Linked DNA regions of Homo sapiens. The protein of the gene in region 3 purifies or fractionates together with the protein of the main gene of each other region. This does not show direct contact. Each region holds a gene or a part of one and is shown on either strand. Other genes may lie near its edges. The genes, in order: STXBP4, ACACA, FNDC11 and EMB.

The links.
Region 1: the proteins of FNDC11 (region 3) and STXBP4 purify together in Homo sapiens (affinity purification with mass spectrometry; 3 studies listed by BioGRID and IntAct, with this or other methods). This does not show direct contact.
Region 2: the proteins of FNDC11 (region 3) and ACACA purify together in Homo sapiens (affinity purification with mass spectrometry; 2 studies listed by BioGRID and IntAct, with this or other methods). This does not show direct contact.
Region 4: the proteins of FNDC11 (region 3) and EMB purify together in Homo sapiens (affinity purification with mass spectrometry; 3 studies listed by BioGRID and IntAct, with this or other methods). This does not show direct contact.

What each region holds. Positions count from the first base shown.
Region 1 is NC_000017.11:55,076,712-55,083,911, reverse strand, and holds part of STXBP4 (syntaxin-binding protein 4), read right to left. Parts: intron 5,835-7,200; coding exon 5,718-5,834; intron 5,227-5,717; coding exon 5,177-5,226; intron 2,863-5,176; coding exon 2,729-2,862; intron 2,723-2,728; exon of another isoform or gene 1-2,722. UniProt on the Homo sapiens protein: Plays a role in the translocation of transport vesicles from the cytoplasm to the plasma membrane. Inhibits the translocation of SLC2A4 from intracellular vesicles to the plasma membrane by STX4A binding and preventing the interaction between STX4A and VAMP2.
Region 2 is NC_000017.11:37,256,703-37,263,902, reverse strand, and holds part of ACACA (acetyl-CoA carboxylase 1), read left to right. Parts: intron 1-8; coding exon 9-218; intron 219-4,372; coding exon 4,373-4,543; intron 4,544-5,529; coding exon 5,530-5,691; intron 5,692-6,036; coding exon 6,037-6,200; intron 6,201-7,200. UniProt on the Homo sapiens protein: Cytosolic enzyme that catalyzes the carboxylation of acetyl-CoA to malonyl-CoA, the first and rate-limiting step of de novo fatty acid biosynthesis.
Region 3 is NC_000020.11:63,549,528-63,557,350, reverse strand, and holds FNDC11 (fibronectin type III domain-containing protein 11), read right to left. Parts: upstream 3,193-7,823; 5' UTR 3,145-3,192; exon of another isoform or gene 3,080-3,144; intron 3,009-3,079; exon of another isoform or gene 2,183-3,008; intron 2,177-2,182; exon of another isoform or gene 1,790-2,176; coding exon of another isoform or gene 1,785-1,789; exon of another isoform or gene 1,757-1,784; coding exon of another isoform or gene 1,688-1,756; coding exon 731-1,687; 3' UTR 656-730; downstream 1-655.
Region 4 is NC_000005.10:50,431,227-50,438,426, forward strand, and holds part of EMB (embigin precursor), read right to left. Parts: intron 1-7,200. UniProt on the Homo sapiens protein: Plays a role in the outgrowth of motoneurons and in the formation of neuromuscular junctions.

The DNA.
Region 1 (7,200 bases), on a different chromosome or scaffold from region 3:
TGGAGTCTAAGTCCCATCCCCTCAAATTTGCATTGATGAATAGAATATGGTGAAAGCGAGGCTGTGTGACTTCTGAGGCTGGGTCATAAAAGGTGATACAGCTTTTGTCTTGTTCACTGAAACACCTATGCTGGAGCCTTGAGCCACCACATAAGAAATTCAACTACCTTGAGGTCACCATGCTAGGGAGGCCAAATATAGGTAGGTGTTCCAGTTGATAGCCACAGATGAGCTCCCATCTTAGATGTCCAGCCCAGTAGAGTCATCAGATATTGCATCCCCAACAGACATCTGACTGCAACCACGTGAGAGTGCTCTAACATGAGCTGCCTAGCTGAGCGCAATTAACCAAAAGGACCATGAGAGACAATACTAAATTGTTGGTTTAAGCCATTAACTTTTGGGTTGATTTGTTCTGCAGCAATGGTAAATGGAACAGCTTATTTTTAAAAAAGTGCTATGTACATAGTTCAACCACAATTCAAAACTTATTCCCGAGTATGTTTTTTGTGCTAGGAATGTGATAGGTAGGTGCTTCAAATAAATTATATTATTTAATAATCAAACAACTTTTTTGAGTAATATCTTCATTTAGTGAAAAAGGAGATGTAAAATACTTTTTAAAAGCTCTTTTCTGGCCGGGTGTGGTGGCTCATGGCTTTAATCCCAACACTTTGTGAGGCTGAGGTGGGTGGATTGCTTCAGTCCAGGAGTTCAAGACCAGGCCTGGGCAACATGGAGAGACCCTGTCTCTACTAAAAATAAAAAAATGCCAGGCATGGTGATGTACACCTGTGGTCTCAGCTACCTGAGAGGCTGAGACACCTGAACCTAGGGGTGGGAGTGATGGGGGATCGGGGAGGAGGAGGTTGCAATGAGCTGAGATCGAGCCACTGCACTCCAGCCTGGGTAATAAAGCAAGACCATGTCTTAAAAAAAAAAATGCTTTCTTGCATGCAACTACTTCTTGTGTTATGAATGCAATGTGTCATTGATTCTCTTTAAGGATAATAACTTCATTTTATTTCAAGAATATAATATAGCTATCTTCAGAATATTACATTATCTTTATTTAATTAAAGACTTTTTTTCTCTCTCTTCAGAATCTCCCTGTTATGCAGTTCTTCTCCCCCTGGACCATTATTAGGTGATTCTTGGTTGTTGGTTCATATTTTAAATAAGGATCAACAATAGAGGTTCCCACTAAGAATGGTATTGCACCTAGGGGGCATTTTTGGAAATTTGTGAGGCATTATCTATTGTCACAGTGTTTGGGGATATTTTTGGCATTTAGTGAAAGGGTACTAGGAATGCTAAACATCCTATCATTATTGGATACACTGAACGGTCCTGTGCAACAAAGAATTGTTCTGTGTCCTGTATAATGTTTAAATGTCCTACTAGATATTTATGGTGGTAAAAAATCTGTTTGTAATTACTAAAATCTGGAACAAAATTCCATTTTTAGATAAACTCCAAATATTTTTGCATAGTTTTAATATACATTAAATTTCCCAGGCTTGTACCTACTATATAAATTAATGGAAGATTTTACTTTCTTCTCTTCAGAACTTTACCATTGGTCACCATTTTGGACAATCATTTGGACATTACTGATGACAATCTGCTCATGCTATTTAAAATGACAACACAATGTTCCTGTATCAGTCTACATTCATGGTTGCCACATTTGTGGTGATTCTCTGTTTAGGTGCAGGCATCTGATGACTACATTATATATCCTAGTATAGCTGTACTAAAGCATTTATGTTTTGAAATATATATAATTTTATTATAAATCACCTCCCTCTTATTTCTCCTCTACAGTACATTAGCACATTGTTGATTTTTATAAATTATAGGTATAGTTAGGTAAATTATAATTTTCATTGCAGGAAAATAAAGAGTACGTAAGAAGTAGTTAGAAAAAGGGAGTTGAAATTCATAAAGAGACAAAAGTGTCTGGAGAGACACAAAAAGAAAAAGAGGAAAATGTCCAATCATTTAAGTTTTCCCCAAGGATTTCTCTGTCTGTTGGGATGATGGAAGTTACTTAGAGCATTGCCTTACTTCTCTTTCTAGCCCAATGATGACTCTAGGGGTATCTAGTGACAGTTCATGTAGTTCCTTTAGAGAGGTATTTTCCTGGCTCCAGCATAGGAGGATATGCCTGAGCCAGCAGCTCTGAAGACTAGGGAACTGGTTCAGCTATTCCAAGCCATTTAATTAATTACCCTGCTGACTGCCCCAGAGTCTGTTCCCAGTCTTCACTGTCTGTGATCCTGGGGTTTTTTCCATGGTTCTGCTTAACTCATCGTTTCAGCAGTTTTGTCTGTTATATTTGTGTTTTGGGGTCTTTTGCTCAGTTGGACTGTACATTTAATCTTATTCCACCTGTGGGATATTATTATTTAACAACAAGTTCCTCAATGCTGATTCCACTCCTCCAGTTTCCAGTGCTGCTGCGGATTGATTTTTACATTTATTCTGCCATTTCAAAGAAACTTTGGGTGGAAGTGGATGTAAAGGCATATCTTAATTAGAGCTTCATTCTGAGCCTTTACATAAAGGAAATATTCTCCTCCTATGATTGGTACATTAATATTTTTATTGATTAGGTATCAACTTTGCTGTAGGCAAGCCACTATAACGAAATTCAACTGTCTGACTTCAATTTGTTTTGTTAAATAAATTACTTTTAAAAAGTGAAAAAATGCAGAAAACTTACAATCCATATCAAGTAAGGCACGAACAGATTTAACAAGTTCCTTAGATTCAAGCGCCAGCGTTGCTGGGATGCTACGTCCATTCCTTCCCAGTGGTGTGAGGGAAGTCTGAGAAGCTAACACAGCTCTTCTTTCACTATGAAGGCAATAAAATAAAGTTGAACTTACTACACAATAAACAACATCTATCTTTACTAAATCTGAAGTTGTATCAGTTATAGATTTGTACAAAAATATTTATATTTCTGAGGAAATTATTTCATATAACCAAAATTGAAGTAATTCACATAAAACAATATTTCTGTTTTCAATTATTTACGACATAATAAGTAGAAATATTTTAAAATTAGGTTGACTTCATGTATGATAAAGAAGTAATAGAAGGATGACCTGTCTCCTAAATCATTTGTTGGGCTTATTTTGTGAGTGCTTCTCTTTTGCTAACATGATATAATTTTATTTAGTTCTGTATAAATTCAAATTAAGCATATAAACATGAATTTGTTAAAATACATTTATTATTACTTCTAGTAATATTAAATATAAATTCAATATATGTATTTGGCTCCTGAAATTATCTCTTAAATTATTCCATTTTTTGCCTCGAATCAAAAACAGCCTAGAGCATTTGTATCACTTTCAAAAAATGCAAATGTCACCTAAAATGAATGCATTCTGATCTAATTAAAAATTAAATGTTTTCTTCAAAAAATTACACTAAAACTTACTTGAAAAAAAAATTTAAACTGATGACAAAATCATCATTATTTATACTCCATCTTCCTAAGCATAATGATATTAATTCACAAAGGGTAACAAAAGCATCAGTTCTCAAATTCAAATACATAGCCTTTATTCTGTGTTGAATGACCAGGGCCAATATCCATGTAGAGGATATGCTATATTGAAATGACTGCACCAGTTTTTACTAGTGTTTAATTTACTAAGACACCATGAAATGTTGCGTGATGTAGCTATTTAAAGTTGTCTTTTTTTCCATGAAGCAGTTTAAGGCAAGGGCAGGCTCTGGCTTTTAAATAGTCATTTTAACCTTAATTTTTAAAACAAAACTTTTGAATTATTAGTCAAGGTAAAACTAAGACCTTGGAAAGCTGAGGGTGGGTGACACACTTAGCCCATAAAGAAATAAATGTGATTACTGATTATTTTAAGATCCTTACTGAGAGTAATAATCATGAAATTCACAGAGTTTTCTTGTATCATAAGCAGCAAGGAGAGTAAGAAGTTATGTCAGGTTCCTTCATCATAAGAAGTAAAACATTACTTGAGTTTAGAAGTGAATTATAAATATTCTTCTAAATTAAAAAATGCTATGTGGACACCAAAAATATCTTCACTTATTAAGCTGCTGTTTTCACAGTAAAGGGTAGAGTATTTATTTACTTTTTGAGACAGGGCATCACTATGTTATCCAGGCTGGAGGGCAGTGGTATGATCACAGCTCATTGCAGCCTCAATCTCCTAGAGCTCCTGGGCTCCAGCAATCCTCCTGCCTCAACCTCCCAAGTAGCTGGGAATATAGGAATGCACCATCCCATCTGGCTATTTCTTTTTTTTTTTTTTTTTGTAGAGATAGGGTCCCACTGTGTGCCACTATGTTCCTTGTCTCAAACTCCTGGGCTCAAGTGATCCCCCTGCCTCAGCCTCCCAAAATACTGGGATTACAGGTATGCACCATCACACCCAACCTCATTGAGTCTTCCTGTTTCTGCAAGCGTATATTGCTAGAAGTAGAAGATGTATCTAGGACTAGTGGCAGCTATTATGAGAGCAGAAAAAAATTACTTTGGAAATGCATAAACAAGAATCTTTCTTTTGTAAATGTCTTTCATCATGTATCAAAATGACCATAAACTTGTGGTTTGAAATAAATAAATTTGATTAGTATGTTTCCAGCTTCTAGTAAGAAACTTTAAATCCAAAACATATTATGAATAATGAGACAATCGAGGTATATTCTCCAAATATATTTCTTTTATTTATAGCTACTGAAAGATGAAAACGAAAGAAAATGATTGCATGAATATGTTTTCCAAAATTCTGTTTGCCAGAACAACTAACCTGCTGGGTTGAGACACTTTTAGTAGTGAACCTGTGACCAGTAACTTTGATTCATACGCAAGACAATTACAGAATTTTAAGTTAATCTCATCTTTATAGAATTTTTGATAAAGACAGGATAGGTGGTTTCTACCATAATTTTAGATTACAAGGTTACAATGATTGACTAAATACCTCCAGGAATTTCTTTAACAGAGATGGGACACAAAACAATATGTCCTTGCATCTATTTCCATATGATGGCATCCAATGGGAGTTATGTAGCACCTTAGGACTATTTAAGAGATTTTTAGTATTTGAGTCACAATGACCAGATGAAGAATTTAATCACTACCCATATTCTGCAAAAAGCACTTAAATTTTCTTACCTTAAATTTGATAAAGGAGTAGAATTATCAGAAAATACTTCTTGAATAGCCTAGCAACAAACAAGATGGTGAAGGAGATATATCAGTTTGACAGTTTTTAAAAAATATCTTTTCTTCATTAATATTTATAACCTCCTCTGTCCACGGATTAAACTGATGCTTCTATTATGTAGCGGGGGTGCAAACAATTGAACTAACATGCAGTTTTACTCAGAAATATAACAGCTATGAAAACATTTCTTTATAAGGTAAGTAGTTATCAAATAATGTTTATGCATTATCAGGATTTTTGGTAAAGTATTCATTAAAATAGTATATACTTGGAATCCCATCACCTTGTCTCAATTATTTCTCTAAACAATCTATAAAATGTTAGCCAGTCTTTTCATCATGTATGCAGTTCTAAATCTGACCATAAGCCAGCATTGCTGCTTTGAGACTAGAGAATGTTTCACTAGGTACCAAATACAGTAACATTTATCTATATGCCAGTTGCCTATATATTTTTTAAAGATGAATGTAATAGAACAGAAAAACTTACCTCTACAAAATGAAGAAGCTTTTCAGTGGATGCCTCAAAAGTTTTTCGAGCCATTTCTGATTTTCGTAATTGGCAGTCGAGTACCATGATTCTCTTTTTTAAATCCTGAACACTTTCCTGCACAGAGATATCAAAAGGAGCATTTACACATTTCTTCAGTTTTACATTACTGGTCCCTATTTTCAGTTTTTATGAACTAATATTCAATATTACCAAATTATCTTTTTCTCTTACTGTACATATGTTTTGATTTTGGGGGGCATGTAACTAACTGCATATTTAAAAGTTAATTTGCACAGAGATACTGCAAGTTTTATGAGATAAGTTGTATATGAGTTTATTGATTCTTATAGTAAAATACATTTAAATTAGTTTATGGTTTTGTTTTGTTTTGTTTTTGCAATGTGTCTTACCAGATGCTGACAGAAACCTCTACTAATTTAACATAACTAAAAATGCTGGATACACACACACACACACACACACACACACACACACACACACACACGATGTAAGACAAAGCTAGCAAGGAAGTAAAGGAATTCCATGGAGACATGCAACAGCGATGCCAAGTGAGCCCACTGGGGTAAGAGAGCACTGAAGCATTATTTGTTCGGAGGGTATATGCTGATCCCTGGTGGCCTACAGTTTGGGGTTTCAACAGTCACAAATGGAAAACAGAAGAAACTCAATGGGTGAACTGGGAAGAAGTAAACTTCACAGAGGTAAACAGTGTTTTGATGTTGGCTCAGGTGACTTGAGTAAAAAAGTTTCTCCTGAATAATTCCTAACCAAAAGTCCCCATTCACACAGGTTTGGGGCCAGAATTTACATTATCTGTGTGGCCTAAAAAGCCATATGCTGAAATTTTACTTTAAATTGGTCCCAGGCTAGCAGAAGCAAACTCAAAACTCTGGAGAGATATTTCTAAAACTCAGAGCTCAAAGAATTCCCACTTATAATGCATTGATAGAACATGATCTCACAGACACAAACAAAAATCACTAAACATATGAGAAAATAAGCTCTATGAATGAAAGCTAACTGAAGGAAATAAAGTACAGTATCAGATCTATAAAGACAGCAGATATTTAAGTGAGCAGATACAAAATATAAGGCAATTATGTTTAATATGTTTTTAAAAATAAGAGGGAATTGAAAGTATAATACACAAGAAACTATTGAAATAGATCCAGATAACATAAAAAATACATCTCAAAAATAAAAATGTAACATAACTAAATTAGAAACTTTATTTATAGATTTGACATCCAGTTAGATACAATTATAAAGAGAATGGGTGAACTTGACAACAGAGGTAAAGAAACTTCTCATAATGGAACAGAAAGACAAAAATTGAAATACAAATGGGGAGAAAAGGTAAAGAGAAAACAGCCAGAAGAAGCTATAGCACACATCCAATCTGAATTACACAAGAACAAATACAAAGAATGAAAGAGAAATCGCTCAGGATAATAGCTTA
Region 2 (7,200 bases), on a different chromosome or scaffold from region 3:
TAATACAGGTTCAAGCTGAAGTTCCTGGATCTCCCATATTTGTGATGAGACTAGCCAAACAATCTCGTCATCTGGAGGTGCAGATCTTAGCGGACCAATATGGCAATGCTATCTCTTTGTTTGGTCGTGATTGCTCTGTACAACGCAGGCATCAGAAGATTATTGAAGAAGCACCTGCTACTATTGCTACTCCAGCAGTATTTGAACACATGGAACAGGTACATATATTAAAAGGCTTACTTTATGTTTTCTTACATAGAACATTTTTCATTCAGTTCATGTACCAATCTGAGAACAATGGCATTTTAAGCAACGATTCTGAATAATTAATAAAATTATATCCTTTTCTTAGAGAAAAAAAATTCTACTGTTCTCCCACTAAGAGAATTGTCAAGGAACATGTCAAGCTTCTAAAAGTAGTTAACGCTTTCTAAAAAAAATCAGCGTACCATTTCAGGATACAGGGATAAAGAAGAGAAATGTTTTGGAATTTTTAATCTTATGATTGATTTTTTTAAGAGGCTCATAATCAGGTAGTTTTATTTGCTGGGTTGAGTATCATCAAGTCTTCAGCTGAATTTAATCAACTCTATTATCGTTTTTGGAAAGTCCTCTAAATATCTTCAGAGTTCACACATTCTATCTTTTTGTATAGAAAGTAGTTTCTCAAAGTCATGAGCGATGCCTTCGGAATAACTATAGTTTAGAGGCCTGAACATAGTCTTTTCTGGAGTCCTAACCCAGTCTCTACATCAAAATAGATTCTTCAAAATATATTTCATGTGTGTTAGAGGTCTATTTCCTATGTTGTGTATATATTAGGATGTACTCTTGAACTGCTGTAATAAAGATGCCTTCAAAATACAGTGGCTTGGCCGGGCATGGTGGCTCTTGCCTGTAATCCTAGCACTTTGGGAGGCTAAGGCGGACAGATCACTTGAGCCCTGGAATTCGAGACCGGCCTGGGCAATATGGTGAAACCCTATCTCTACTAAAAATACAAAAATTAGCTGAGTGTCATGGCACACGTCTGTACTCTCAGCTGCTTGGGAGGCTGAGGTGGGAGGATCACTTGACACTGGGAGGTCAAAGCTGCAGTGAGCCTTGATCATGCTACTGCACTCCAACCTGGGTGACAGAGCAAGACCCCATCTCAAAACAAATAAATAAATAAGCAAAATACGGTGGCTTAAACAAGGTGTAAGTTTCTATTTCTCTTTCATCATAGTTCAGAGATGAGCTGTTACCAGAAACAGGTTTATTGCTCACCTGTTGCCTGTTTTTGTAAATAAAATTTTGTTGGAACACAATGATGCTTATTTATTTATGTGTTATTTATGGCTGCTTTATCACTACAATGGTAGAATTGAATAGTTGTGACAGAGGCTATATGGCCCACAAAATTGAAAATAATTACTATCTGGCTCTTTACCAAAAAAGTTTGCCAAACTTTGCTCTTGGACATTGTCATCTTCATGATTAAGCTAACTCACACAAGATTATGTTCACATTGTGGCCTGTGGGAGGAAGAGACAGGGGATGTGGAGGGCAAGCATATGGAAGCATGATCTTGAAGTCACATACATCACTTCTGCTCACATTCCACTGGACAAAATTCAGTTACACAATTATACCTAGCACAAAGGATGTTAGGAATTGTGATCACTAACTGGGTGACCATGTGCTCAGCAAAAATTTCGATTTTATTCCTAAAATGATGAAGTAGAGAAAAGTCACTGGAGGGCATTTCATAATCTGTGCCTCAGTCTGTTCCTCTGGCTACCTATTATCCCTTTATCCTTTTTCCTACTTTCAGAGCACACATAGCCTTTGTCCAAGGAAGACAACCTGAAGCCCCATCCAGTTACTAGTAACTGGATGGGTTATTACTGGAGGTGATTCCGGATCTCTATATGATGTATATTCTTCTCCATTAGATATGTATTGTGGCTTTTCATGGGCCAGTGACTCAAAATACAAGTTATTTACCCAGTATTATATCCCCTGCCTTCACCATACACCCATATACAATGATGGAATAGGAACAGGATAACTCTCATTTGGAAAAATGAAAAATACATAGCAATCGTTGGTCCATAGCAGTTATCAAATCCTCCTTTTTAGGTAGGAATTGCAATGATTCCCTGCTATATAATAGAATACTACCTCAGTTAGACCTGGCTGTCCCTGGTTCTGCTACTGCACACTCCAGAGAAGTGCAATAAGGGAGTAAATCCCTTGTTCATTGTCCTTCAAGACACCTGACATTGTTTTCTGGGAAGTTCTTCCTCATTCAGTTTTCTCTGTGAGTTGGGCTTTGGAGACTATGCCTTCTTTGGCAGAACTTTCACAACCCACTTCCTGCTGGTGCAGGATTGAGGGCACAAATATCCCAATCATCAGTCGCAGGCTTTTGAAGGCCAGGTTTGTGGTTTGTTTAGAAATACAATTCCTTCAAATACTTAACTAAGCTTCTGGGCTATTTGCTTGCAATCAGCTTTGGGTTGGATTAATCATACTCATAGATTTCTTCTAGATATAGAAACTTTTCTTCTATTATTTACTGGCTTCTGTGCTTAGCCTATCTCTCTTGCCTTGATTTAATATTGGCTATCTTGGGGCCAGCTGAAACTAAAGCAGCACGTTTGATCTTTGACACTGAGTTGCTTCAGGGTGATAATCTCATTTTCTGTTTGGGGGGATACAAAAGAAGTTGGCTTTTTCGACACTCTGACCCTTTCAGACCATCTTTTTTAAGGTTTAGTTGGTGTGTGGTCAGTATCCCAAGTTATTGTAGGAAACAGTTTACCAAATGTTGTGTTATCCCAACAAGGAGATTATCACCTTTCCAGCCTGCAGTATCTGTTTCTCTGCTACCCACTACCCTTTTGCTAAGCTAGCATCTCATATTTTAATATTTTTAAACAGCAACATTCTACCTGCACTTAATAATTCCTGTATCGATTAGGATACAGGTTAAACTGCTATAACAAAAAGGTCCAAAAAACACAGCGGACCCCCCCAAAAATAGAAGTTTATTTTTCTCTCCCATCCTAGTCTGAGGTGAGCTTTTCAGGGCTGGTGGAAGTGTTTTATTCCACGAGACCATCTTGGGATTCAGGTTCATTCTTTCTTTTCTTTTTCTTTCTTTTCTTTTCCTTTCTTTTCTTGGTGTTCTTAGTGTGTTCTCATTTGCATGATTGAAGTTGGCTTATACTATCATGACTATGTTCCAATGAATAAGAAGGAAAAAGCCAGGAATAGAGAATGAGACATTTCCTTTTCAAAATATGACTTAGGGCTGGGTGCTGTGGCTCACGCCTATAATCCCAGCACTTTAGGAGGCTGAGGTGGGCGGATCACCTGAGATCAAGAGTTCGAGACCAGCCTGGCCAACATGATGAAAACCCATCTCTACTAAAGATATAAAAATTAGCCTGACATGGTGGCATGTGCCTGTGATCCCAGCTACTCAGGAGGCTGAGGTAGGAGAATCACTTGAATCCGAGAGGCGGAGGTTACAGTGAGCCGAGATTGCGCCACTGTGCTCCATCCTGGGTGGGTGACAAAGCGAGACTCCATCTCCAAAAAAAAAAAAAAAAAAAATATATATATATATATATATATATATATATATATATATATATATATATGACTTGGGAGTTATGCATATCACTTACCAATGCTGGTGTCCTGTTTGTCAAAACTTAGCCACTAACCAGGCCAGGCATGGTGGCTCACGCCTGTAATCCCAGCACTTTGGTAGGCCAAGGCGAGTAGATCACTTGAGGTCAGGAGTTTGAGACCAGGCTGGCCAACATGGGGAAACCCCATCTCTACCAAAAATACAAAAATTAGCCAGGCATGGTGGCGCATGCCTGTAATCTCAGCTACTTGGGGGGCTGAGGCAGGAGAATCACTTGAACCCGGGAGGCAGAGTTTGCAGTGAGCCACGAGATTGTGCCACTGGACTCCAGCCCAGGAGACAGAGTGAGACTCTGTCTCAAAAAAAAAAAAAAAAATCTAGTCTCTAACTAGTTAGCTATGTTTCTAGGAAGAAGAGGAGCATATTGGAAATACTGGAAACTGGACAAGAGTCTGTCCCCATGTTTTTTTGTCTGCATGCATTTATGTCTGGTGGGGTGAGGTTGCTTTTGATGCAAAGTGAAAAATGCTCTTTTCTCCCGATTTTTCATTGAGTTTTTCATCCTTGTCCAGGGATATTGTATAATAATCAGAAATGTGCTCTCATGTGGCTAAAAGCTTTTGATGGCTCTTATACACACTGAACAGTTGAGTCAGTGAGAGGCTGTAGTGGTCTAGCAGTTGGATAAGGTGAGATACTTATGTTTGCTTATCTCTCTTCTTTGAGTGTGCGGTGAAACTTGCCAAAATGGTGGGTTATGTGAGTGCTGGGACTGTGGAATACCTGTACAGCCAGGATGGCAGCTTCTACTTTCTGGAATTGAATCCTCGGCTGCAGGTAGAGCACCCTTGTACAGAGATGGTGGCTGATGTCAATCTCCCTGCAGCACAGCTCCAGGTGAGTCTCCCTGATCTGGGTTGCAGAGCCTAGAAAAGTCAGAGAGGCCTGAAAAATGGGTTTAACCAGTGTGTGATAAGAGAAAAGCACCTCCTATCTGAGTCACACCTAATGGTCATTTCTCTTTCACCCTGTATGTGTTATGCATGTGTGGTTTGGTTTTCCTGATGTAGTACAGACATAGGAATGTTATTTTTTCTAGCCAGACACATCTGATATAATGTGTCATGTTTTAGAAATAAATGTTAATAATGTATGCTTTATTCAATTATTTAGCTATAGTAAACTTCACAACTTTGTATTATAATTATTCCCTACTCATTTTTGTTTTTTTACTAGTGTTCTTTATTGAAATAATTCTGCATCAGAGATTAGTGGTTGAAGTTTTTCCTTACAAGAGTGTGGTAGCACACATATATTTTTATAATTTGTAAAGTGCTTGCTGTCAATATTATTGTCTTCTCTCAGCCCAGGAAACAAATATTATGGAAAGCAGTAATAGTTAATGATAAGGCTTGATATTATTTTTATCTAACATTTGCCCACATCGAGAACACCTTCTGGGTTCCTATTAAAGACTAAAGATTTACTTACTTCCTCCAGTGGTTTGCAGGGATGGAAGAGATAATTATGACACAATTAAGACTTTCTAGCTGTCTGTTTTTGGATGGCTATTAACATTTACTCCTCTGTTGGATATTTTCATTCTTATTACGTGATGGAGAAATGACAACAGGGGAACTGGTGTCTGTTGCATTAGGAATGTGGGGACTTCTTTAGAAGTGGAGAATATTCTAACTACTTATCTGTAGTGATATATTGTATTTCAAGCAACTTAGAGTTGATGATTGTAGAATACAGGTTATAAAAATAGAATGTTTTAGGGAGTGGCTCCAAAAATAAAAATATTTTAGGTTATCTGATAGCCTCTACACTTTAAGGGAAGTAACTGAAAAATTAAAGATGTGTGTTTTATTACCTTTCAGATTGCCATGGGGATTCCTCTATATAGAATCAAGGATATCCGTATGATGTATGGGGTATCTCCCTGGGGTGATTCTCCCATTGATTTTGAAGATTCTGCACACGTTCCTTGTCCAAGGGGCCATGTTATTGCTGCTCGGATCACTAGTGAAAATCCAGATGAGGTAACCCATCACTTAAAAGGTTTATACCTCCTTTTAATGAACTTTAATGTTAAGATAGTATCTGAAAGTATACTTCTGAAATATCTTGGGACTTCCTCTGGAGTGGGAAACATAGAGGTTTCTCAGAGCAGATAAGTAAATGGTTGTTGCTTCATTGGTTACTTAATCCCACTTAAGTCACTGTAGAGTCTTCAGTGGGTCTGTGGCACTGGGTCTTGGCCTTTATCATTTTTGTGTGTCTTCTCTGCTTCTGTGTGTGATTAACAGAGAACTTAAACAATGAATATATAAATCTTCTCTTCCTTCGAAACATAATATGGTCTCTCATTCTTTATTCTCTAACAGGGTTTTAAGCCCAGCTCAGGAACAGTTCAGGAGCTAAATTTCCGCAGCAATAAGAATGTTTGGGGATATTTCAGTGTTGCTGCTGCAGGGGGACTTCATGAATTTGCTGATTCTCAGTTTGGTCACTGCTTTTCTTGGGGAGAAAACAGAGAAGAGGCAATTTCGTGAGTATAATAGCATTTGATTGCATTTTACAAAATAAATTTGTGCTAATCTTAAGTGAAGGTGTGAGCATGGGAATAGGAATCATCTGCTGTCAAAGTAATAATATGAACAACCTTTTTGAAGAAATTTTGAATATCTTTAATTACACTTGCATTCATGTTGTATTAAATTATGCAGTGCTTGGCAGATGTTTTTCTGTTTGTTGTTCTGAGCCTTTTGAAGTATTTTTCCTTTCAAATATTTTTGATAAATGTATAAAATTGATTGCTTTAAAGGTATCTTATTTTTCCACAGGAACAGTATTGTTATTGAGGGGAGGTAGATTCTTGGCCAAGAACTAGGTATCAAATAAATCATAGACTTTTATTTTATTTTTTTCTTGTGAGAAGACTTAAAATCTATTAGCAATTTTCAAGTACACAATCTATTGTTATGAGCCATAGTCACCATGATGTACTCTTATAGTTATTTAAAATAATAAAATTATACTGCTCATATTATGAAAAGGACATAAAGAAACTGTCTACATTGCTAATACAAGAGACCTTAGCATGCTGTATATAACAGCTTATGCAAATATAACTGCTATATCATAAATGTTAGATAATATTCTGTTAATCATAAACAATGAATATTAAATTAACAGCACTTTTGCTTGCCTAAAACATAGGGCTGAAGGAGGTAATTTTAACAGCTTAGATCTTTTGGAATATCTATCTAAAATTGAAACTTGAACTAGTTCTTTTCTGTTTTTTAATGGTTTATTGCCTTGTATCAAACATTTAATACCATTCCCTTTACCTTTGTACTGTACATGGAGTAGGTAATTAATAAGTGTTTATTAGTATTAATTACTAATAAATAGCATTTGTTTATTAGTAATTAATCCTAATATATGGTTGTTTGTATTAATAAACACTTATTGATTAGTTTTATATTTTTATCAATTTCCTGAATTAATTAATTTTAAGAGGCAGAGTCTTGCTCTGTCACCCAGGC
Region 3 (7,823 bases):
GAAGTGCCTGCAGAGAGGATGAGAAGGCGCCTCTAGGAAGGGGGACTTGGGGACCTCACCAGCCTGCAGCCAGGGAAGGCTTCTGGGAGGAAGGGGCAGCTGCGGCCCTGAAGGTGAGCGGTGGGGGGACGCAGGGGCTGGACGCCTAGCAAAAGCAGCTGATCCTGGAGGAGAGAGGGAGCTCAGGGCCGGGAAGGCCCTTGAGGAACAAAAGGTGGGGCGGGGCATGGAGGGGCACGGCTGAGCTGCTCACAGCCAGGGATCCCCGGTGGTGCTGCTGCCTCCTCGGGCGGGCGTGCTGATGAGCACTCGAGGCTGGGCAGGGGATGGTGGGAGGCATCACGGCCTAGGAGTGTCATTCCCTGAGGGAGCCCCACAAGCCAGGGAGGTGGGTAAGGAAGGCCGGAGCCCGGTCACGGTGATGGGGGTGGTGAGGAGGGGCGGGGGCTAGGACCGCAGAGGCCCCGTGGAGCAGCTTTTGTCGTCGTCGTTGGACCCGTAGGTGTCAGGGGCTGGTACTTCTTGCTCCAGGCTCAGCTGTCTTGGGAGGTCCGGCCTGTGGCTCCCCCTGGGAAAGAGCAGGAGCAGAAGGCCTGGGGCTTGGCATGTTTTGAGCCAGGAAAAACACTGGTGGCTGCTGCCTTTAAAACATAAATAGGTTTGCTTCTTTAATTCCATATGTGCATTTACACTCTTCTTTATTAGTGGATAAATATTAGAAAATCATCTCTCAGACAGAGTGGCTGAGGGCGGGCCCCTCCAGGGGCTCCGGCTTGGTGTGCAGGGTGAGGCTGTCCCTCCAGGGCTCGTACACCAGCGTGGAGGTCTCGGCCCTCTTGATGGTGAACTTATAGGATCGGTTGGGCAGCAGGTTTCGGACGTCGAAGGTGCAGGCAGCCACGGGGATGACGCCACACTGGGCGCACTCCTGCTGTGTCCGCGGGTCCAGCAGCCTGAAGCGCAACTCATACTGCTCCGATGTGGCTGGCTGGATGGTGACGAACCAGCGCAGCCGGGCCCAGTCCTGGTGAGCCGCCGACGCCTTTCGGTCAAACACGACAGGCATCTTGGTGCTCAGCATGAGCCAGATGTGCGGGATCTTGGTGGCACTGACATCAGACACCAGGCGGTGCTTGACGTGTAGCCGCCCCGGCACCATCATGGTCAGGAAGCTGTCCATGACGGCCGACACGTCCGCCAGCCGCCGCTCCACCAGCGCCCAGTCGGCCAGGAAGGGCCGTGGGTCTGGCGACCGGAGCAGGGCATCCAGCTCAGCACGGCCATGGTCGAGCTGTTCCAACAGGTCCCCGAGCAGCAGGAGCTGGATCTTGGTCTGAGCTGTGCCCACCTTCTTCATGCGCTGGAACTTCCAGGGGTCGATGAGCTGGAACAAGGCGCTAGGCAGCACCAGCGGGTTCTGGTCGCCCAGGGCCAGGTGCTTGGGCAGGACCTCGATGTAGTAGGAGCACTTACGCAGCAGCTGCATGCGGGCGTGGTGGCGCTTGAGCAGGTGCGGACTCAGGTCCGAGGTCAGGAACTCACGCAGGGCATTGCGGCGCTCGGTGTAGGTCTTCCACGCCTCTGGTTCCAGCAGCTGCTGGTCATCTGCCTCCTCCTGGTCCAGGAAGGACTGGGGATTGCCCAGCTTCATCTTGTCCAGGCCCAGGCCTGCCACATGGGTGCTCATTATCCGGGAGCTGGGGGGAGGGCTGGGTGTCAGCTGCCAGGCAGGCTGGCCTCCCCTGGGCTGTGGCATGTTCGGGGGATGGATTCAGCCCACTGACCCCATGCTGGACCTCTGTCCTTCTTCGGGGGCACAACTCGATGGGAAGAGGCTGCCTGGAGGGCTGGATGGGCAGCCTACAGATCTGGACACAGTTTATACTGAGGGGCAAAAACCTCTACTGACAACCAGTGGCCTGTGGGACAGGACAGGGAAGAACTAGGACTGCGGACTTCTGGCCAGAACCGCCTGACCTGTGGCCTTGCAAGGGCCCCAGTTCCTAACCCTGCTGCTGAAAGGGGTTGCTGGCACCCCTCGGGGCCGTGGAGAGGGGACGGCGTGGTCCTAAGCAGCACAGGATCCCCCTCGGGGACATTCGCGGGCCATCCTCCCGCTCCGGTTCTCCCTGGGGACGCTCCACGCCTCACCGCAGTTGTAGGGCACAGAGACAGGCCTCACCAAAGACGAGGCCAGCTGGCTGGTCAGCATGGGAGGAGGGCGCCCAGGCCTGGGCCCGGAGGAGCAGCCCTCCTCCCACGCTGTGGGCCCTCGCTGTGGACCCGGGATCCTGTCCCTGGTGAGCTCATGGACTCCACAAGTGACACTCCATTTCCCAGATGGAGCCTGAGGCTAAGAAGCTTGGTTCTTGTTCTCATCCAGGGCTTGAGCCCAGTGCTGAGCCGAGTCTGACCCTCTGTCCGTGGGTGCACCGGCTGAGTGCAGCTGTGGCCCCAGGCTCTGCCGCAGCTCCCTGGAGAGCAAGCCGCACCCCTGGTTGCTGCCCCGGCTCCCAGCAACCCTGGAGATCTCAGGTTGTCACAGCCACTTGGGCCTTGGACGACCCACAAATGAGAGCTAAGCAGTTGCTGAGTTCCCCAGGGCCACACAGGTACGTGGTGAAGTCATATCTGCCCGGGAAGGGTTGCCCTTTTGGGCGTGAGGCAGATATGACTTCACGAGCGCACTCCTCGGGAATCCCTCGAGAACAGGCCCCTGGGGGCAGCAGGGAGTGTGTCTGGGGTGAGGTGCCAGCTGAGAGCAGGACCCCAGGACCCCAGGCCTAAGCCCTGCTCTTGCTGGAGGCTGGGGCGGATTTCACCGCTGGAGGGAAACCGTGCCTCTGTGACGTGTGAGGGATGTTTTCTAGTCTCCAGCAGCTGCCCAGGTGGAACACCCAGAGAGGCTGGTCGTGAACCCGGAAAGGTGGTTCTGAGCCCCTCGCTGCTTCCTACACGCCCCGGTCCCAGGCCCGCTTCCCTGAGACCACCAGGTGCCCGCACTCTACCCCCTCCACCACACTCCCCTTGGCTCCCCTGGCCCGGGCCCACCTCCCCGGCCGCTCTGCCTGCCCCTTACCTTCTCGAGACCCCCAGCCCTCCTCTCCCGGCCCCCGCCGCCGCCCCAGGACCGCGCCCACTTGCCCTGCCTCTGAAGCGGAGCCGCGCGCGGACTTCCCAGAGCCCAGCCTCCCTCCGCACTCCGCGGGTTGCCCTGGGGACCAGCGGCCTTTGTGACGCTGCGGCCCGGGGGCGGGGCGGGGGTGGGGACCCGGGACCCCGAGCCGAGTAATCTTCCATCCGCTTCGCTTCCTGGAGAGCCCCAGACTTCTGGGGGCCCGCGTCCCCGACTGAGGGGCCACGGCGGGTGGCTGGTCCAAGAGCCAGGCTCCAAGGGGGGTTCCCGTCCCGGAGCCCTTCCGCGGGCGCACCACTCCCCACGCACCCCCGGCTTCGGGCGGGGCGCAGGAGCCTCGGGTGACTGGGAGGGAGTTCCTGCTCAACCCCCCAGTCCGAGCGCACTCCTCGGGAATCCCTCGGAGGAATTTGGGAGAGAGGCAGTGGCCGGTGACCAGGCGGATGGACCACCCAGCGCCTGGACAGAGGAGAGGGGCGGCTTCCCCCGCCGCGGGCTCTGCCCAGCAAGGCCCCGCCCATTACAGATGCCACCCATTACAGGCTCCTCCCACCGCAGGCTCCCCCCACCGCAGGCTCCTCAACCACAGGCTCCTCCCACCATGGGCTCCCCCCTCCCCCGCAACGGCCCCTCCCATCATAGGCTCCTCCCACCGCGGGCTCCCCCCACCACGGCCCCTCCCACCACAGGCTCCTCCCAGAGCAGGCTCCTCCCACCGCGGGCTCCCCTACTACGGCCCCTCCCACCACAGGGTCTTCCCACCACAGGCTCCTCCCAGCGCAGGCTCCTCCCACCGCGGGCTCCCCCCACCACGGCCCCTCCCATCATAGGCTCCTCCCACTACAGGCTCCTCCCACTACAGGCTCCTCCCACCATGGGCTCCTTCCACCTGGGGCTGCCCAAGCTCAGGCACCGACCTGACTCTGGATAAATGGGGTCTCCATAGCTCCAGGGAGCCCCGCAGGGGAGCTCTGAGGCCATCTGGTCCCGTCTGTATCTGTTCAGTTGGGCTCAGGGCCTCTGGGATCCCCCCGTTCCCCCACAGCACACCCCAGCTAGCTGGGGGTCTCCTGGGGTCACAATCTTAGACACCCCAAGGTGCCCCTCCTTCACCTTCAGGAAGATGCTGGAGGAAGACACCCTTTCCATCCTCCTCATCTCCACCCCCACGGAGGTCAGTGCTGGGGCCTCTTCCAGGATGGGCGTCTTTGAGCCCCTACCAGGCTGTTCTGTAACTTGAGCCTCCCCCCTCCTCCCGGTGACCCCACCCTGGAAGAGCTTTCCCTTGGTGCATGGAGGCCCCAGGGGTTAGGCCTGGCAGGAAGTGGGTGGATGTGGGTGGTTTTTTTTTTGAGATAGCGTCTTGCTCTGTCACCCATGCGGCAGTCTTCACCCCCGGGGCTCAAGTGATCCTCCCACCTGGGTCTTTCTGATCCTTCCGGATTACAGGTGTGAGCCTTGCACCCAGTCCTGTTGGGTGCTGTTTCTGCCCTGCCCTCCCTGCCTGGGCTGGAACTCAATAAATGCCAGCTATTGTTATTGTTATTTAGGGCTCCAGGGGACAAAGCCGGGGTTGTTTGGAGAAGGGGGTGCTGTCTGACGCGGAGGGTTGGGAAGCAGTAGGAGTTAGACCCCTTACCCCCGGCCCTGCAGCCCACTGACGGAGAAGCGGGGTGGGGGCAGAGCAGCCTCCCCTTCTCTTTTGGGGCCAGGCAGGTCCTGGATGTCTCCCCTCTCCTGGGCTCCACCCTACCCCCTTTCTTTCAATTTCTGATTTCTAATCTAATTTTTTAAAGTTAAACTTTTGGCCAGGCTCGGTGGCGCAGGCCCATAACCTCAGCACTTTGAGAGGCCAAGGTGAGAGGATCCCTTGAGGCCAGAAGTTTGAGACCAGCCTCGGCAACACAGGGAGACCCCTGTCTCTACAAATAATTTGAAAAATTAGCTGGGTGTGGTGGTGTGCACCTGTGGTCTCAGCTACTTGGAAAGCTGAGGCCGGAGGATCACCTGAGCCTGGGAGGATGAGGCTGCAGTGAGCCAAGATGGTGCCACTGCACTCCAGCCTGGGTGACAGAGGGAGACCCTGTGTCTCTAAAAAGAATAATAATGGCTGGGCGCAGTGGCTCACGCCTATAATCCCAGCACTTCGGGAGGCTGAGGCAAGCAGATCACCTGAGGTCAGGAGTTCAAGACCAGCCTGGCCAACATAGTAAGACCCAGTCTCTACTAACAATACAAAAATTAGCTGGACGTGATCGAGACCATGGTGAAACCCCGTCTCTACTAAAAATACAAAACACTAGCTGGGAGTGGTGGCAGGCGCCTGTAGTCCCAGCTACTCGGGAGACTGAGGCAGGAGAATGGCGTGAACCTGGAAGGTGGAGCTTGCAGTGAGCCGAGATCACGCCACTGCACTCCAGCCTGGGCGACAGAGCGAGACTCTGTCTCAAAAAAAAAAAAAAAATTAGCTGGACGTGGTGGTGGGCGCCTGTAGTCCCAGCTACTCAGGAGGCTGAGGCAGGAGAATCGCTTGAACCCAGGAGGTGGAGGTTGCAGTGAGCCGAGATTGTGCCACTGCACTCCAGCCTGGGTGCAATAAGACAGAGGCCTGTCTCGAAAATAATAATAATAATAATAAAGTTAAACTTTTACTTTTAAGATAAGTATAGATTCATCTGCAGTTGTAAGAAGTAACACAGAGGTCCCGTTACCCTCTATCCAGCATCCCCAGTGGTAGCATCTTGCAGGACTGCAGTGCAGAATCACGCCAGGACCTTGACGTCGATACAGACGCAAGGCAGTGCCACCCCCACGGGACCCTGACATGTTCTTTACAGCCACGCTGCTCCCTCCCACCTCTCCCTAGCCCTGCAACCACTCATCTCTCCGGCTCTGTCTGGTCATTTCAAGAATGTCCTATCAGTGCAGGCTTTCAGTATGCAGCCTTGGGACTGGCTTCTTGCGCTCAGCATAGTCCCCTCTGTGCAGGGTCAACAGTCACTCCTGTTCACTGCTGGGCACCAGGGGCCAGTTTGTGCTCAGTCTTGCTCAACCCTGTTTGTGGCCACCAGGGCACGGGCAGTGAACACTTTGGATCTGTTGTCCCTGGTGGGGACAAGCTCTCTTCCCTGGGCCCTGAGGATGGTGAAGCCTGGGGGTAGTGGGGCCAGTCTTGGGGGAGAGAATGCACGCTGACCACTGAGACCCTCAGAGCTGTGCCCTCCAGACACATAAACCCGGATGGGGGGTGGCCTGATGTGGCAGAGCTCCTGCCACAAGCCTCCATCTGAACACCAGGAAGGGCCCTGCACCCCATCCCCCTGGTCTGTGTCCTCACTGCCATTGTAAGCTCAGTGCTCTTACAGATGGGGAAACTGAGGCACAGGGAGGTTCAGCACTGTATGCCCAAGGTCATGTGGACAGTGAGTCTGACAGCAGGATTCCAGCCCTGGTCATTTTTATTTTTTTGAGATGGAGTCTTGCTCAGCCGCCCAGGCTGGAGTACGGTGGCGCGACGATCTCAGCTCACTGCAACCACTGTCTCCCAGATTCAAGTGATTCTCCCGTCTCAGCCTCCCGAGTAGCTGGGATTACAGGTGCCCGCCATCATGCCTGACTAACTTTTGTATTTTAGTGGAGACGGGGTTTCACCATGTTGCCCAGGCTGGTCTTGAACTCCTGACCTCAGGTGATGCACCCGCCTTGGCCTCCCAAAGTGCTGGGATTACTGGTGTCAGCCACCGTGCCTAGCCTTTTCTTTTTTTAAAAAAATAGAGATGGGGGTCTCACTATGTTGCCCAGGCTGGTCTTGAACCCTTGGGCTTAAGCGATCCTCCTGCTTGGCCTCCCCAGATGCTGGTATTACAGGAGTGAGCCGCCTCACCCGGCCAAGCCCCAGACTCCTGACCCCGTCCAGACTGATCCTGTACCCAGGCCCCTTTCCTCACTCCCCTCTGTGCCACCCACCCGGTTAGGGCTGAGGGAGGAGGTGAGGTCATGTGGGGGGGGCACAGCAGGCAGGGAAGGGGCTGCTGACACCGACACCTGGCAGGGGCCCTATGCTGGGCTGTGTTGCGCCTGGTGGGTGAGGTGAGGAAGGGGTGGACGGGCGGGCACAACTTGGAGGGCAGCGGGACAGGGCAGCTGGGCATGCGGGGCCGGGGATTCTGAGGACCACCGGGGAGGAGCTGGATAAAGCCGGCCTCGGCTGCCTGCCGACCACACTCACCCTGGCATGTGTGCGGTGCAAGGGCAGCAGGTGCAAGGAGGGGGAAGATGGGGCAGACGTGGGGAGCTGATCTGTGGGCAGGTGGGGCGGTGGGGGTGAGACACGCCGGGGCAGAGGCCCAATGGGGCCCTAACCCTGATGGCCAGGCCTGCCTCTGGTTCCAGCTGGGCATGGAATGTGCTGAGTCCTGTGCCATGATCCCGTGGCTCTAAGGGGCAGGGAGTGTCTGGGAGGAATCTGCATTCAGTGCCCTGAACATCTGACCCTGGTGTGGTGGGCACAGGAGCTTTCCATGGCCTGAGGAGGCCTCCCTGGGGCTCTGCGGCCTTGGCGTTCTAGCGGGGAAGAGTCACGTCCTAGGGAGGATTTGGGAGAGCTGGTAGCCACACCTGTAGTCCCAGCACTTTGGGAGGCAGGAGGATCGCTTGAGGCCAAGAGTTCAAAACCGGCCTGGGCAAC
Region 4 (7,200 bases), on a different chromosome or scaffold from region 3:
GCAATATACAGAAATGCCTTAAGTGGAAAAGCAGGGCAACCTACAGAAGGTATTAGGACAGTAAAAGAAGTTCTTTGTTTAGGCAAGATTTTTTTAACCAAAAAAGTGAGAATGTAAACCTTATTGCTTTCAGTTGGAGGACAGCTGGCAGGAGGCTGATTCAGCTAACATTGGGGTTTAAAGGAAATTGGCAGGAGACTCAGGCAGATGTGGTTTGAATACTTCCCTAAAAGGATTAGGCTGAGTCACAAAAAGAAGTATAAAATGGAGAGGAAGGAATTTGGGGTCTTAATCCAAATTCTGTCACTGACTGTTACTTAGGGTTTCCAAACGCCATATGCCCAGCTCAGTGCTTTGAAAATATGTCTCCACTGTAAACCTCATCTGATAGGGAAAAAAAATGAGGATCAGAAAAGTTGTATAAATATGAGTGATGATGCCAAGATCATAACATGCATTTCTCAAGTTATCAAACTCACCCTTTCTTAATCATTGCTGGAAAATTTCCATATAGCATTCTTTTACAGGTAGAGACAAAAATATCAACATGAAAGAGTAACATCAAATAGTTGCTCAAGAGATTAAAAGACTTTTTTCTCTCTTTGCAGGGCAGTTGAGGCATAAGACTACTGCATCAAAGAAGTGAGTAACATCTTAATTTTCACCTGTTATAATTTTCTGTGAAATAGCAAAATGGTCTCTACTTAAATGTTTTTCACATATTATATTTTAAAATGTGTTGCTAGAAGGGCATATAATTTATTCTATTAACACTTTCAAGTGAAATAAACATGCTATAATTCTACTTAAAGGTATTAAGGTAACATTTTCACATATTTCATTTTGAGGACTTCATTTAATTGAAGTAAGTTGGGAAGAAAAATAAGTAACACTAGAAAACTGCATTGGGTCTTAAGATTTGCTTTTTTAAATCAGGAAATAAATGCAACTACATCTCTGATTAAGAATAAACATTCTCTCTAAAGCCCCCAAAATCCCTTTATTATATGTTAAAATCTTGGAAGGGTCTGAACTTCATTAAGAAAAAAATGTAAGAAGCAACTATTAGAATAAATATTATTCTTTATCTTTCTCATCTCTATACTGATTGCTATCAACATGCAGTACTTAATTTTAACATTCTGATATACAGCATTATAAATGTGCAACCCAATTACAGAAACACTGATAGGAATGAATATTACATATTATTCATAAAATAGAGATTTGGAAATAAGAATATATTTCTTCATGGAAGCAATGTTATATATAACCATGTGATCCCATGCCAAATTGTAAAGGCCACTTAAGCCATGATATGGTTAAAACTTAGCTTTAAAATACCTAATTACTAAGTAAAATACTGATTATACACAACACATGGAGAATTATGGGTTTTAGGAGCAGAGTAGCCCTATCCCCTGTCCATAAATGCAGCAGAAAGAGGAAAAAGGAAATAAGGCATCTCTGAGTCCTGGAAATTATACTCCAGAGAGATTCATCCAAAAAAGAAGAAAAACAAGTAAAAAAAAAAAAAAAAAAAAGCTTGTCAAAAAATTCTAGTTATCAGGGCCAGGCGCGGTGGCTCACGCTTCTAATCTCAGCACTTTGGGAGGCTGAGGCAGGCAGATCATGAGGTCAGGAGTTTGAGACCAGCCTGGCCAGCATGGTGAAACCCCGTCTCTACTAAAAATACAAAAAATTAGCCAGGCATGGTGGCATGCACCTGTGGTCCCAGCAACTTGGGAGGCTGAGACAGGAGAATTGCTTGAACCCGGCAGTCGGAGGTTGCAGTGAGCTGAGATCGCATCACTGCACTCCAGCCTGGATGACAGAGTGAGACTCTGTCTCCAAAAAAAAAACAAAAAACTTATAGTAATCCTGATGGGAACATTTATAAGTCAGACTTTCTAAGTCAGAGACAGATAACACTCCACACAGAGAACTCTTGAACTCTTGATATTTTCTGCACAGTATGGAAGCTATTGGACAAGAAGCCTTTACAGACAAGGTTTTTTTTTTAAGGCCTACTGACAAGTACAATGCACACTTTTACCAGTCTTGTAAAACTATTTTAAAAACCAGATGGTATAGGAATGGAAATAAATAGATCTCTTTAAAAAAATATAATTTTGGCAATAATATACGTTTCAAAGGGCAATGTAAAAATTCTGTTTCAAATCACCTCTACATGGGTCACTAAGATACTTTAACAGTAACTTATGCCAAATAAAAACTTATTAAAAAATAAAACCCCGAAAGTTAATAACTAAGATTTCTATTCTTTCTAAAGACTGTAGATTTGTTAAATGTTTCAATTGTTAGTCTATTCGATAAGAGTTGGGATTTTGTTCAGTGGCTCTCAACTGAGGGTAGTTTTGCCCCGCAGGAGACATTTGGCAATGTCTGAAAGCATTTTGCTTGTCACAATTGGGGGAAGATTACTACATTTATTTAGTAGGTTATATAAGTTTTCATAACAAATTACCACAAATTAGGTGTCATAACAAATGACTACAAATTTGGTGGCAAAAACAACAAAAGTGTATTCTTTCACAGTTCTGGAGGCCAGGAGTCTGAAATCAAGGTGTTGGCAGGACCTTCCTCCTCTGAACTCTTGAGTGAAGAATCCTTCCTTGCCTCTGCCTAGCATCTGGGAGTTGCTGGCAACCTTGGCATTCCTTGGCTGTTGGTAGCTGCATTAGTCCAATATCTGCCTCTGTCTTTACATGATCATCCTCCCTCTGTATATGTCTCTGTCTCTGTTCAAATCTCCTTCTCCTTTTTTTATAAAGACCAGTCATTAGGTTTAGGGCTTACTCTAATTTAGTATGACCTTATTTTAGTTCATTACATCTGCAAAGACCCTACTCCCAAATAAGGTCACTTTCACAGGTACCCAAGATCAGGGATTAAACATATCTTTTTGGGGTGTACAATTCACCCACCGCATATGTAGAGGCCAGGGATACTGCTAAACATTTTAGGATAACAGCTTGCCACGACAAAGAATTATCCAGCGGAAAATGCCAACAGTACCAAAGTTGAAAACCTTGATTTTGAACAGATACATCAGCAATACTGATTCTTCAATGTGATCATTCTTAATAATCTTCCAATGGCCCTGTGGCCCTAAATTCCTGTTCTGCATAGTTTAGGTGCAGACATTTTTAAAGTGTGAACATTTTTTGCCACCCTTCTCTCCCAAGAACACCCTCCTGCCAGGGGCCTATTTTGAGGACTTTTTATGAAGAAAAACCACATGCTGGAGGGACGCTGAAATGCAAACCAGGAAAACAGTTATAGCTATTAGCTATCTCATTGCTTTTGGCTAAGTTACAAAAGCACTTTGGGCTTCAAGATCAATGAAACAAGGTATCTAAATTCCCTTTCAGGTTCTCAGAAGTATATAATTGCAAGGCTATTAAAAGCTTCTGGTTTGGGATTAGGGACACATTAGTACAATAACCTCAATAACTTCAAAAATGCCAGGAAAATGCTATTTTCAAAGAAAAGAATAACAACTCTTTAAAGGTAACATTCATAATTTCTATTCTAACATTATTTGAGATGTTCTATGTTTAAATAGTGGCAATTTTTATTAGGAGTAGAGTTTATTTTTAGCAAAGTGTTGTGAGGTTTGTTCTCCTACATCAGCATATATGTCATAAGTTATTAATTTCTAACGTTCACCTTATATTGTGCCATATGTGAGACCAGCTGTACAAAGTTAATGTGAAAAGATTACACTTTAGAACAAATAGCCTCAACACATGTGATTTGTTTCTGTTGGAGGGCATATACACCTTTGGAAAATGATACCTAAGAACATTAACAGATTTCTCAACTACTGTTTTAGTTTAATACCTCGGTAAACTGAAGCTTTCTCAGGTAAACTAATTATTTTTGTTTCTTTTCAAACAATCTCAAAGTAGCAGAAACATTTCAAGAACAGAACATTTTCCCCTCTGAACCATATGAGTAAGTTTCTGACCTGATGCTTCATGCCCCACTAAAACATTACCGTCTATTTCCTACAAAGGACATTCCCCATACCATCACAATACAACCATTAAAATCAAGAAATGAATATATATGAAGCACCATCTCATCCCCACACCCCATCTAAGTTTCAAAAAAAAGTCCCTATAACGCACTTGGTAGCAAAAGGTTCCAGCTCAGAATCACACATTGCCGTTGGCTATCACTTCTCTCTAATGTGGCTTCACTCTGGACCTGTGACAGTCTCTTCTGACTTTTCCATAACCTTGACACTTTTTAAAATTCCAAGACAGTTCTGCTCTAATATGATTATATTTGAGGTAGGCATCTTTGGCAGGAAGATCATAGAAGTGATGCTGTGCTCTTCTCACCAGATCGTCTCAGATGGCATACCATTTTTTTGGTCTTTGATCATTTGATCAAAGTGCTGTCTGCCAAGCTTCTCCACTATAAAGTTACTCTTTTTCCCTTGATATTAGTAAGCATATTCTGAAGAGTTACTTTGAATCTTTAGTACTTTGTACCCCATCAAAGTTTTCATTGATTTATTTTTTAATTTGCTTCAGTTGGTACTCATGAATCCCCATATTATTAAATGGGTTACAATCCACTAATATTATTATTTATTTTGATGCTCAATTTTGTCCCAGATTTGTCCAGTGGGAACCCCTTCATATTGGCTCCTGTATCTTTTTGACATGACTCATTATCCTTTGAGCACTCCATTGCTTTCTGGCACAAGATGTTCTAGGCTTATCTGCTACTTTCCCACACTAGCCCTGAAATCAGCCATTTCTCCAAGAAGCCTTGGTTACTATTAGTAAAGAATGGTATTTAGAACCCAAGATCTGGGTGCTAAGTATACTCATCACTACTGGAAATCACTGCTAAGAATACATGTGCACATATTCATATACACATACAACTTATAATGTATATCATATACACTTATGTATATGATATGCATGATACGTATTCATCATACATATATTTACACATATACTTGTTTAAAGCTATATACCTATATAGACTTAAGTAAAGAGATAGGGATTTAATGTCATGGATTCCCATGGATACTGCCAACTGCAATCCAACACCACAGGGTTCATTCTACTTTTTCTCTATCTTTATTTCATTCTTCTCTAGTGAAAAACCTAGATCCTATTATCTTTCCTAGATTTAATTATTTGATCCATCACCCTGTATACTGCTAAACTGTCATTGCTACTGCCACACCTGTCCCCACAGAGATGTCTCCTTACCCACTCAGGCTCCAACCTCCATCGCTGGTCTGACCCTCCTACATGCTTTCCTCCACATCTTGTTTGGGATCAAACATCACCCATCTGCTGCTCCTGCACAAAAGCCTTGTTAAACTTGCTCAACTCTGGGATCCTGTGTCAAGCTGCCCGCTGCAGGAGCAACCATTCACTGTGCTCAGGCCCTAATACTCCACACCAGGCTGCCCTCCTGCCTGATGCCATCCTTACCAGGGTCAGCCTCAGATATCCTGATCTGGTCCCCTTGGGCTCCACCCACTTAGTGAGGATGTCTCCTTGCTCTTCCCCACCAAATAACTATAGGACCTATGGAGGGAAAGATGAGAGGTAGGAGGGAAGGGAACGAGGGTGACAGAAGATGAGGAAGAGTCAGTTGCCCTAATTCTTAACAAATGTTTTCAACATATAATTTTTTTGTGATGATAAATTTAGGGTAAAAATGGTCATGCATCAGAAACATCACTATTAAAAGTAGGCTTAGGCTGGGCACCGTAGCTCTCGCCTATAATCCCAACACTTTGGGAGGCTGAGGCAGGAAGATCGCTTGAGCCTAGGAGTTCAAGGCCAGCCTAGGCAACCTAGTGAAACCCCATCTCTACAAAAAATACAAAAATTAGCCGGGTGTGGTGGCATATGCCTGTAGTCCCAGCCATGTGGGAGGCTGAAGTGGGAGGATCTCTTGAGCCCAGAAGGTCAAGGCTGCCCTGAGCCATGAGTGTGCCTCGGTACTCCAGCCTGAGTGACAGAGTGAGACCCTGTCTCAAAAATTAAATGAATGAATGAATGAATAAATAAATAAAAGTAGGCTTATGGTTCATCTGTTCCATTTAAACAGATTTTGGTCTTTGATCATTTGATCAAAGTGCTGTCTGCCAAGCTTCTCCACCATAAAGTTACTCTTTTTCCCTTGATATTAATGAGCACATTCTGAAGAGTTACTCTGAATCTTTAATACTTTGTACCCCATCAAACTTTTCATTGACTCCTTTTTAAATTTACATCAGTGGGTACTCATGAATTCCCATATTATTAAATGAGTTGCAATCCACTAATATCATTATTTATTTGATGCTCAATTTGTCCCAGATTTGTCCAGTGGGAACCCCTTTAAATGTCCTTAAAGGTAAAAACTGCCAGCATGTTCTACTGAGATATGGACTAACAATGTCAGACATATGTGGGTGCTTGAATAGTATTTGCTTCAAAAATATTTATTACTAGAAAGCTGCTGTGTTTGGGGTGAGAGGTTAGTAGGGAAGGGGGTTCATAAAGGGAATGCAAAAGCCACGTCCTCTGGAAGTTAAAAGGATCATTTTAAATGATTCTACTGCAAACATTTTTCAAAAGATAAACATGACCCATTTCTCCAATTTGTGTCATGTAATAGTAATAATAATGATATTTAAATACTCCCACTGATATATCCTTTACAAAGATATATTATATGTCTTATTTAATCAAAAAACCTTAAAACAGTCCCTGTACCTAATTTTATTCCAGGACTCAAACTGTGTCAGCATGTCATTCAGTGCAAATCAGACATTTAGATGCATAGGCTATGCTGTCAGTAGTTCTGAACTTTCATAGACATTTCCAATTAGCTCGGAGAGACAACTGGATATTGTGTTTAAGCACTGTGTTTAGGAAAACAGGCACTGGATGGACCAATGCCAAATTTCCTGCTCTGCTGCTTAACTAAGTATGTGTAATTACTTGGGCAATTAAGCAATTACTTGGGCAATTACATAAGCCAAGCCCCAATTTCTTCATCTTGAGCCCAGAAGGTCAAGGCTGCAGTGAGCCGTGAATGTGCCTCTGCCCTCCAGCCTGAGCGACAGAGTGAGAATTCCCCAGGAGTGCAGAGGTTCTCAGAACTGCAATACTCTGAGATGAATTTTGAAAGGTGAATCAGGGATAG